Regions from separate parts of the Homo sapiens genome. Here region 2 is linked to region 1. Evidence: fine-mapped expression QTL. A gene starts in region 1. The other region holds a variant in brackets. All regions are shown on one strand. Distances are between the middles of the regions. Region 1 holds the start of SDHAF3 (succinate dehydrogenase complex assembly factor 3). Region 2 overlaps LOC105375416 (a long non-coding RNA gene).

Region 1 (5,383 bases):
AGTTGGAAAGTACTGCAAATTACCTAACCCAGCTCATTTACAAGTGAGAAAATCTGGGCACAGAGCGGTTAAATCACTTGCAGAGTAACATATAAGAAAAAGAAACACATGAAGGAAGGATAAAGGAAAGGTCTGCATGAAGTGTAGTGATCTAGATTGGTGGCCAGAAATATAAGTGTGATTTTATTTTCAGTTCATGGCTATTTTTACCACAAGAGGAACACTGATCAGCCTAAATTGGTCAGGGAAACAGAGAAAAGTTTTGTCCTCAAAACATAGCTCACTGTCCAGCTTGTTGTAAAAAAAATAAAATAAAGGTTAACTGTCATTATTCTCACTGTTATTGCTTTATTCCACTTCTCAAGGCCTAACCACACCACTATGTCTTGGCTTCTCTTTCACCCATCGTCTGCCATTTTGAGCATTGATTCTCCAATGCTTTGTGGACCCTTTCTACTCTCTTTAGGCTCAATTAATTCCTTTATTTTTTAATTAATTCATTGGCAGAATGTTTTCTCACATTTTTATAAGAGTGTTGGCTCTTGAAAGAGGTATTTATTACACATGTTCTTTAACTCCAAAGGAAACCAGAAAAAAACAAACGGGGACAAGAAATCAATTTTCAATTTTACAGGGATATTAACAGATGAAGTATGGTTAGAAAAAAATTTCCTGAAGCAAAATAACCACGCTGCCATTCAATCCTTGCCATTAATGCAGTTTGTCATAATACCAAATTAAATCCATTTTTAAAAAGTTCTGTGTTTTTTAAAACACATATTTTCCCTAAATTTAAGCAAAAGGAGAAGCTCTATTCAAAGCAATAAATTCTACTTACTATTTGTATGGCACTGTGGTGGGCCCTGAAAAGGATACTAAAATGAGTAAGTACCTGCCTTCAGTAGCTGAGTGTGTCTTGTTTTTCTTTCAGAAAGTTTTTGCACAGAAAGAAGTCTGGGGTCTGTGAGACAATCACACAAATTTCAACATTTCTGCCTCTTCTTCACCAGCAGGAATATGAGGCATCTGACACCGTTAGTGAGTTTCACACATTAATTCAACAGATATTTATTGAGTGCTTACTACAGACCTAGTGCAGGTCACTAACAAATCACAAAATCCCTGCCCCTATAGAATTTGTACTCTAGTTGGGGGATAATAAATGGAGAATAAGCACATGAGTAAATTATGTAAGTAATATAGAGAGAAACAAAGCAGAGGAGGAGCATAAGAAATTCTTGGTTTGGTGAGGTTGCAACTTCAAGCAGGGTTTCAAATAGGGTTGCCAGGGAGGGTCTCATTAGAAGGGGACCTGAAGTATGCGCTGAGTGAAATAAAAGTGTTAGCCAGGAAGATACATTTGGCAAAGCACTCCAAGTAGACGGGACAGCAAGTGCCAAGGCCTCAGTTGGGAGTGTACCTGGCTTTTTAAAATATGAACTAAGAGCTAGGAGGCCAGTGTGGCTGCAACTGGCTAACTAGGGAGAAAGCAATAGGAGAAAATTTAAACCTTTAAGGGCTAGAGACTGGGCTTTACTCTGATGAAAATCCCTGGAGGCTTTTGTTGAGCAGAGGAGTGAAATGATCCGATTTACAGTTTAGATTGTTAAAAGAAAAACTTTAAACAAGTTAAATCTAATAAAGTTTATTTGCACGAGCGCACGTGCACACACACACACGATTTATGAGGCATTCATCAGGCAGCAGCACTTAACAGGGAGAGGTTCAGAGAGCTCTACCCAGCACTGTGGGCAGGCAGTATTTATAGACAGAAAAAGGAAGTGCCCCACAGAAACAGCTTGATTGCTTACAGTTGGGCTAGTCTTATTTGGGCAGGACATTATGACGTATTTGCCTTATATGCACATAGTCTGATCAGTTGGCAGCCTGTGATTGGCTGAAGCTCAGCTACTTGTCACAAGAATATACTCTCAGTTGCAGTTAATTTACATACTAAGTTAGGTTGCAGTTCCCTACATAGCAACTCAGAGTAGGGAGGAAATTTTAGGCCAAATTTAATTTAAATTATGTTGGAGCATGACCAAAGTTGGTCATGACCAGAAGCTGAACACAGATATGGAAGCTAACACAATATCCAGTGGAGAGAGATTGTGGTAGAGTACATGGGGCGAAATGGTTGATTTCTGCATTTTTGTTGGTGACGCCATCAGGATTTGCTGAAGAACCAAACGTGTGACAGGAAAGGACAACACAAGGAGCTGCCAGCTTTGGAAACCAGTTCTACTCTCAGTATTACCTTCGCAAAAGATAGAGCTTTGTAAATTTCTAGATTCCTCGTTCTTATTATCCTAGACTATTTAACCAGAATCTCCAGGGTCGTGGTCCTGGAAACAATACGTTTAAAACTCTTCCCAAGGATCCTTCAGCAGCCAACTTGACTTTGGCTAAGGAGTCCGCCAGCTCTGGGCTCACTTGGGTTGTTTGCAAGGAAGAGCCCATGCCCAGAGTATAAATTGGGAGAACAGCGCTGTGCAAAGAGCGTGGGTTGGTGAGCTAGTGGATGGCGAGATTAATCTCACTCTGATCCCTAAAGCAGGGTGCAGTAATACTCTAAATGCCTCAAATGGGTTGGGAACCATGGAAGGAATCCCGGAGGAGCCCGATCTTAACGAAGCTTTTCTCAGGCCTTTGGTAGGAGGACAGAAACGAAGTTGAATGAAAAAGACAGTGGAGTGGGACTGAGAAATGACAACGGCCCACCACAGACCTCTCTCTTTCAAGGCCTGTGTCGTCAGGACGCAGGCCAGAAGAAGCCACGACGAGGCGCAGGCGCGACTCCACGAGGGCCACGCCCCTCCTAGAGAAGGACCGACCCGTTTTCCGCCCGCAGCGGAGCTTGGGTTTCCGGGAGGACCTGATTGTGCAAGGGACCAAACCGGATAGAGGTCGCGCGCCCTCTTTCGTCTGCCTTCCGGTTCACTAATACGCAAGTTCGCAGAAGTGCGGGAACGCGCCGTCCCTCTGCGCAGGCGCAGTCGGCGGTCGGCGTGGGGCGCTATGCCGGGGCGGCACGTTTCTCGAGTCCGGGCATTGTACAAGCGCGTCTTGCAGCTGCACCGTGTTCTGCCCCCGGACCTCAAATCCCTGGGCGACCAGTACGTGAAAGACGAATTTAGGAGACATAAGACCGTTGGTTCTGACGAGGCACAGCGTTTCTTGCAAGAATGGGAGGCAAGTGACGCTCCCTTCTCTTTGCCCAAGACCTTTGGGGTTCCTCGGTGTCCAGGTTTCTAGTTCCAGTCCCCCATGCGGGGTTAAACAGAGCAGCAACCTGTTCTGTTTGAAATAGCGTAATGCTGTTCAGGTAACACTTTCCAAAGTTTCTCCCACGGGTTTCTCACTAGAGCAGATCCTGTTACTTCAGCGTCCCCAATTCAGTTCAACTTTTGAGCTCCTGCAGATGCCAGGTGCTCAAAGGGTGAGGGTAGGAGGTCACAAAAATGAGCAAGTCGTCGTTAAGTGCTCAAAAACCTCAGGAGCTTTTTGTCCTTTTAAGTGCCTTTGCACCTAGTAAGCGCCCATTAATAAATTAATGGTTCTCTTATTAGTTTTCAAATTTAAAGGCTTATTTCCGTAATTTATTATTTAATCTCAGCGCTTTTGGTTGGGTTTAAATAATTTTCTCACTTGGCTGATACAGAAATCAGGTAACATGAAAAAGATTACAAAAGGTTGGAGATTACAAACTGTGAAGGAGAAAAATGCTGGTGGCAGTTAAGTCAGGCGAAAGTTGTTTCCTCCGGTCTCAAGTCATTGTTACTTCGCCCTGCACCATTGCGCTAAATATTAAACAGACACATGCATTAGCAATAAGTCGTTTGACTTTTTTTTTTTTTTTTTGAGTAAAGGAAAAAAGATATTCAGAGTATTTCGTGGGGCTCGGGGCCCTGCAGGATTGCCCCTAGTTTTCATTTGCAAATATAAATAAATGAATGGAATTAGAGATTGGAATGACAGCTCAGATATTTGAAAGCATGAGTTGGAGCTGATATGAAAATAGAGGTAAGCGGTTCTTCGGCCTAAATAGTTGAAGGGGAGATGACTGAAGTCGGCTTTGTAAAAAAAAATCAAAAGAATGGTTAGGGTGAACACAAACTTTGCACTGACTTCCAGAATTCTTTTTTGTATAATTATTGAAGCTTTTAAGAGCGACATTTAGAACAATCGGGAAATTTAGAACTTTCTTGAAAATCATGGTGTATTTGATGTAATTCGCTTGCCTGAAGCAGGGAAGTTGAAGCTTTTCAGACACAGAGCACTTTATTTTAATAAGGTAATTTGGTTTTGGAGCCTGAAGAACTGGATTCAGATTCAGTCTCTGACATTTTAAGTGTCAGATCACATAATTTTTCTAGTCTTATTTTCTCATCTATAAAATAATAAGTGTTTATGCATCTCAAAATTTACGTATGTAAATGTATTTACAAGCACTTGTGTATTGCTAATTGTTATGAAGCTATAAGATACTGTATTAAAGTATTTTACATCTTTTATGGTAGGTCATTTTGTGGCCGTACAGGAAGGAGAGTAGCTCTCTGTTGGGAGGAAATAAGGTTATTTTAAGAAGTCTTAAAATGTAAGCACATGGAAGCCTCTTTGGGAAAAAGTAGGAAAGAGTAGCAACTCAGAAAAAATTGATAATAGGTTGTAGGAGAGAGAGAGGGTATAAAAAAGAACTGCATAAATAAAAAATGTGTTAGTTGACCTAGTAGGCTTGGTAACTGGGATTGAGCTTTTTAAAACTTGGAATAATTTTAGACATACAGAAGAGTTAGAAAGACAGTAGAGAGTTCCCTACATCCTGTTTCCCCCTGTGTTAGCATCTTACATAATCAGGGTACAGTGATCAAAAACAAGAAATTAACATTGCTACAATGCTGTTAACTACAGACTTTATTTACAATTTGCCAGCCCTTTCACTAATGTCCTTATTCTGTTCCAGGATCCAATGGGGATTCTACAATGCATTTAGTTATTCTTTTTCCTTAATCTCCATTCTGTGACAGTTGCTCCGTCTTCCTATCTTTCATTACCTTGATACTTTTTTGAAAAGTACTAGTCTGTTACTTTGTGGAATGTATCTCAATTTGAGTTTGTCTGATGTTTTCTCATGGTTAAATTGATGTTATGCATTTCATAACATCTCAGTAAGAATACCACATGGGCAAAGTGTTCGCCTCAACACTTAATGTCAGAGGGCACATGATACTAACATGACTTCTTACTGGTGATGATAACTGTGATCACTTGGTTAAAGTAATAATCCACGTGGTGTCTCTACTGTAAACTTACTATTTTCTCTTTTGAAATTAATACATATTTGGGGGTAGGTACTCTCAGGCTTTCAGATGATTACTAGTCT
Region 2 (5,383 bases), 350 kb after region 1:
TGTGAGTCCATTAGCCCTCTATCTTTATAAATTACCCAGTCTTGGTTATGTCTTTATTAGCAGTGTGAAAATAGACTAACATAAGCCCTTTCCCAAAACAAACCTCCTTCTTGTCTGGGGACTAGACTGCCTTTGTAGGACTAACAAGTTAGCCAAAGATTAGAAATTATGGTTTAGGAGTCATGTGGCTGAAGGCTACAAGATTCTGATCCTCCCTAAACTGCTTCTAAGATCAGTGCTTGAGATATTTTGCAGATCCTGAGCTTGATGGATCAGCTGGCACCACTCAGATGGAAAAAACTGGCTCATCTGATCTTGTGACCCCACCCAGGAACTGACTCAGCACAAGAGGACAGCTTTGACTTTCCATGATTTCATCTGCTACCTAACCAATCAGTACTCCTGGCTCACGGCTTCCCCCAACCCACCAAATTGTCCTTAAAAACTCTGATCTCTGGATGCTCAGGGAGACTGATTTCAGTAATAATAAAACATCGGTCTCCTGCACAGCCTGCTCTGTGTGAATTACTCTTTCTCTATTACAATTCCCCTGTCTTGATAAATCAGCTTTGTCTAGGCAGCAGGCAAGGTGAACCCACTGGGCGGTTACACTCCCACCAGGCCCACCCTCAACACTGGGGACTACAATTGAACATGAGATTTGATTGGGAACACAGATCCAAACCGTATCACACATTACACTGTAAACCTATGGTTTATGTACTTTTCTTTATGTTGCAAAATAAAATGTTTTCTTACACTCATGAGGCAATTGGAACACTGATATTTGATGATACCTAGGAATTGCCAGGGTTTTTTTGTTGATGGTATTGGAGTTTTGTCATAAAAAAGTCTTATGGTTCAGAAAGACACACAACTTTATCTAGGTAAAATGTGATGCTCGAGGTTTGCTTTAAAAAGTAAGGGAGGTGGCCAGGCGCAGTGGCTCACCGCTATAATCCCAGCACTTTGGGAGGCTGAGGTGGGTGGATCACAAGGTCAGGAGATCAAGACCATCCTGGCTAACACAGTGAAACCCCGTCTCTACTAAAAATACAAAAAATTTGGCCGGGCATGGTGGCAGGCAACTGTAGTCCCAGCTACTCTGAGGCTGAGGCAGGAGAATGGCGTGAACCCGGGAAGTGGAGCTTGCAGTGAGCTGAGATTGCGCCACTGCACTCCAGCCTGAGCAACGGAGTGAGACTCTGTCTGGAAAAAAAAAAAGTAAGGGAGGTGAGGGGAATAAGTTAGAGTTTAGATTGGCCATGTAATTGATAATTGTTGAAGCCAGGTGATAGTTACATGGGGGTACATTAAGCTATTGTCTAGTATATAGTTGAAAATTTTTCTTAAAAAAGTAATTGTAGAATCCCCAATAGACACCTCTCTTTGCCCACTTCTGTTATAACCCACTGGATTCTTGTCACCCACTGCACAAATAAGGCCAACACAGTGAGACAGAAGTGTTGCAGCAGAGAAAGAGTTTATGGTAAGGCAATTGAGCAGAAGGATGAGAGATATGTCTCAAATCAACCTCCCTAAGAATTTGGAGGCTAGGGTTTTTAAAGATAATTTGGTGGGTAAGGAGCTAGAGAATGGTGCTGCTGATTGGTTGGGAATGAAATCATAGGAGTATTGAAATTGTCTTTGTGTGCTGAGTCAGTTCCTAGGTGGGGGTCATTGGTTCAGGTGGTGTCAGTTGTTCCACCACAATGCAAAGTCTGAAAAAAATATTTCCAACACCAGTCTGACATTTTAAAATAGTGTTGTCTATAGGACCAATTAGAGAACTTACAAATCTTGTGACTCCTGAGCATCAAGCAATTTAGGAGACAATAACTAGTTATCATTTAACTATGCATAGGTCTTAGCAGAATTCAGGTCTTTACCATAATTCTAACCTTGTGGCCTTTTATTAGTTTTACAAAGGCGATTTCAGTCCCTGAACAAGTAGGGGGTTAGTTGGAGGAAGGAACTATTATCATCTTTATTTTAAAGTCAAACTGTAAAGTAAACGGCTCTCATACTTAGTTTCACCTACACCCAGGAATGAGCAAAGATAGTTTGTGAGGTTAGAAGCAAGATGGAGTCAGCTACATTAGTTTTCTCTCTCTGTCATAACTTTTACAAAGGCAGTTTCAATTATTTCTCTCTGCACTTCCTTTGGACTTTCACTTCTCTCCCGTCTTTCACCACTGCTCCCTCTCACGGGATCTACTCCTCTCAGTACAACTTTTTTTTTTTTTTTTTTTTTTCTTGAGATGGAGTCTCGCTCTGTCACCAGGCTTGAGTACAGTGGCGTGATCTCGGCTCACTGCAACCTCTGCCTCCTGGGTTCAAGTGATTCTCCTGCCTCAGCCTCCTGAGTAGCTGAGACCACAGGTGCATGCCACCACACCCAGCTAATTTTTGTATTTTTAGTAGAGACAGGGTTTCACCATGTTGGCCAGGATGTTTTTGATCTCTTGATCTTGTGATCTGCCTGCCTCGGCCTCCCAAAGTGCTAGGATTACAAGCGTGAGCTACTGCTCCCCGCCTCAGTACAACTTTTAATCTGTTTTCTTTCATAT[G/A]CAGTGAGCTCAGCTAAACTGTCTTAGTATGAGAACCAGCACATCCTACCGACCCTGAGGCCTCAGCCTCTAATCAAATGGGTTTACAAAAACAATCAACAAAGATGGGTCTTTTCCAGGAAAACGGAGGAATCCTATTCTAACTGCCATGAAAAACAATTTTCTGTATTCATTCATTCATTCATTCATCCCCTACCCACAATATGCATAGGTAGGGTTTATCTCTTAATAAATTTGAGAAGTATTGTTAATAGAATCAGGAACATAGTTGTTAACCTTTCCCCAGGGTGGGCTACTTCTACTGATCACTAATATAAACCATCATCACGATCCTTACAAGCTTTGCTGTCAGAAAGCGATCTTCTCTCAAATTGGTTCATCTTTTTGATATCCCTCAATCCCTTCCACACCAGCTATAGTTGTTGAATTTTCCTTTAACTGGGACATTTTGAGTTTGTCAGAGGAGGAAGGGAGAAAAAGCATTTAAGAATAGTCTACTGACTGAATGGGAATTACTGCAAAGAGCTGATGAGGTGAGAATGCCAACAAGCGGGTTTAAGACCAAAACATTCACCCAAGTGAGATTACATTTGTTTTCTGGAAATAGGGGTGGTACAGGATAATTAACTTGACTTGGTCTTGAAACACATTTTCAGCCTAGAAGAAGCACACAAATCGTACTTGACTTAGGAATTAAACAGATGTGATGTGGAGAAAATTAAAACATTTTATCAACCTCTGTGAAACTCACAACTCAGATTGTATGAGCCTAAGCTATAAAACATTGTATCTCATCATCTCAGCTTAGGGGTTTCTGCTCTAGTGTCCCACTGACAGCATGCCCTCAGTAGTAGGGGCCTTCTACTTTTTTGTTTTTGTTTTGTTTTTTGAGACAGAGTCTCAGTCTGTCGCCCAGGCTGCAGTGCAGTGGCGTGATCTCGGCTCACTGCTACCTCTGCCTCCCGGGTTCAAGCGATTCTTCCATCTCAGCCTCCCAAGTAGCTGGGACTAGAGACATGTGCCACCATGCCCGGCTGCTTTTTGTATTTTATTTATTTATTTATTTGAGATGGAGTCTCACTCTGTCCCCCAAAGCTGGAGTGCAGTGGCATGATCTCAGCTCACTGCAGCCTCTGTCTCCCGGGTTCAAGCAATTCTCCTGCCTCAGCCTCTCAAGTAGCTGGGGTTACGGGTGTCCACCATCAGGCCTGGCTAATTTTTTTGTATTTTTAGTAGAGATGCGGCTTCGCCATGTTGGCCGGGCTAGTTTCGAACTCCTGACCTCAGGTGACCCACCTGCCTTGGCCTCCCAAAATGTTGGGATTACAGGCGTGAGCCACCACGCCCGACAGCCTTCCAGTTTTATCATGTCCATTGGAAGGTCTGTAGCCTGCCTCTGTCACTTACTTACACTTCTGCTGTTTCTCCTACCCTACAGATCACCTTTAGTTACAAGGACTCTCAATGACTTTCCTGAGCACATATCGCCACAGCTATCTCCTATTACTGCTCCGAGGCCCTCCCCTAAGACTGTATAGCATAGTCAAAAACAACCAAAGAGCACCTTCCTAATATTCAGGCATGGCATCAGTTTAAGTAATGGCAGAATTCTTTGGAGAAATTCAATGTATCTTAAATGCCCAGAGCATTCATTTGACTCTAGACAATCTGGACAGAAATAATTGTGAAGCAGGTAAATTTTCCTGAGAGTTCAGTACAGGGACTGATAGAGAAGGATATTCTCCAGATTATTGAATATCATAGCTTTGCACTGCTTACAATGAAGCTCTCACACAAAGGCCACTGATGGAGAATAATCAGATGGAGAATAATCCTACTGTGCTATTGATACAACTTATAGCAGCACAGGTGTTTGGAGGACACCTGAGCATATTCATGCCACCTTGAATCAATAGGCAAAGAGATTTCCTCTTTAAGGTGAGACAGTTCTAATCTGGTGGTCATCAGCAACTGTGCTTTGAGATACTTTGAGCTTCCATGTGTAAGAAAGGAAGTGACAGGCTCAAAGCAACAGTTTTAAAGACCCTTGAGAAAGAGTAAGGGCTTAGTCTGCAGCCACCCAGTGGGTGCGATTACCCACGCAGTTCTGTGTAGCTCCTGACGAGTACATGCTATAGTTTCATGTAAGAGGCAGTATGGATATAGTGTTCAGAGCATGGGCTTTTGGTCAGATTACTAGAGTCTGTCAAACCTGCTTTATTTATAAGACAGATGATAACAGTGCCTGTGGCGTTGGCTTTTGTGATATTAAAATGATTTAGTATGTGTAAGCCCTTAGAACAGGGCTTCCTGCCCCATTGTCAGCATTCAGTAAATGTTAGCTATTTTGAATTGAGGGGTGTGGAGTAAACACACAAGAACAACGATGATTTTGGAATGGTGTTTAAAAGAAATTTACAGAAAGATTCCAGAGAAATGTGGTAAAAAATTAGCCTTTAATTTCTGGGTTAGAACTCATTTTAATAAAACAGTATGTCTCAAATGACTGAAGAAAGAATTGTATGGCATCATAGAAAGAACATAAGACTTGGAGGAAAGACGTGGAGGGTTAAGTCCTAAGTTGTCACCAGCGCTGTGGCCTGGGATCCTGCAACTCATCCCTTTGGGCTTATAAGGAAAGTTAATCTCTGTGGGTTGCTTCTAGCTTAAAACTATGATACGATGCCAAGTAACACTTAAATCACTGTTTCTTTGATTAGATGCATATTAAGGTTCAAAAAAGAATTACCAGTCTGGACCCCTGTGCTTCCATTCTCCTCTTATTTAAATCATCTTATTTCAATCTTCTCTTA

What was found. PIP is the estimated chance that this variant, and not a neighbour inherited with it, causes the effect. A credible set is the group of variants that fine-mapping cannot tell apart.
Region 2: its variant is the best candidate, but not a certain one, in a credible set for the expression of SDHAF3 in memory regulatory T cells (Schmiedel 2018, PIP 0.55).

Annotation. Positions count from the first base shown.
Region 1 is chr7:97,114,706-97,120,088 of GRCh38, forward strand. SDHAF3 (succinate dehydrogenase complex assembly factor 3) reads left to right here and starts at 2,993. Exons shown (of 2, transcript NM_020186.3): 1 at 2,993-3,192. The coding sequence starts at 3,019. RefSeq lists enhancers at 2,651-2,730, 3,081-3,170.
Region 2 is chr7:97,460,340-97,465,722 of GRCh38, forward strand. All of the region lies in intron 2 of LOC105375416 (a long non-coding RNA gene), which reads right to left. Among named protein-coding and RNA genes, the nearest start is that of TAC1, 270 kb to the right of the region's middle. The variant G/A (reference allele first, on the strand shown) is at 2,571.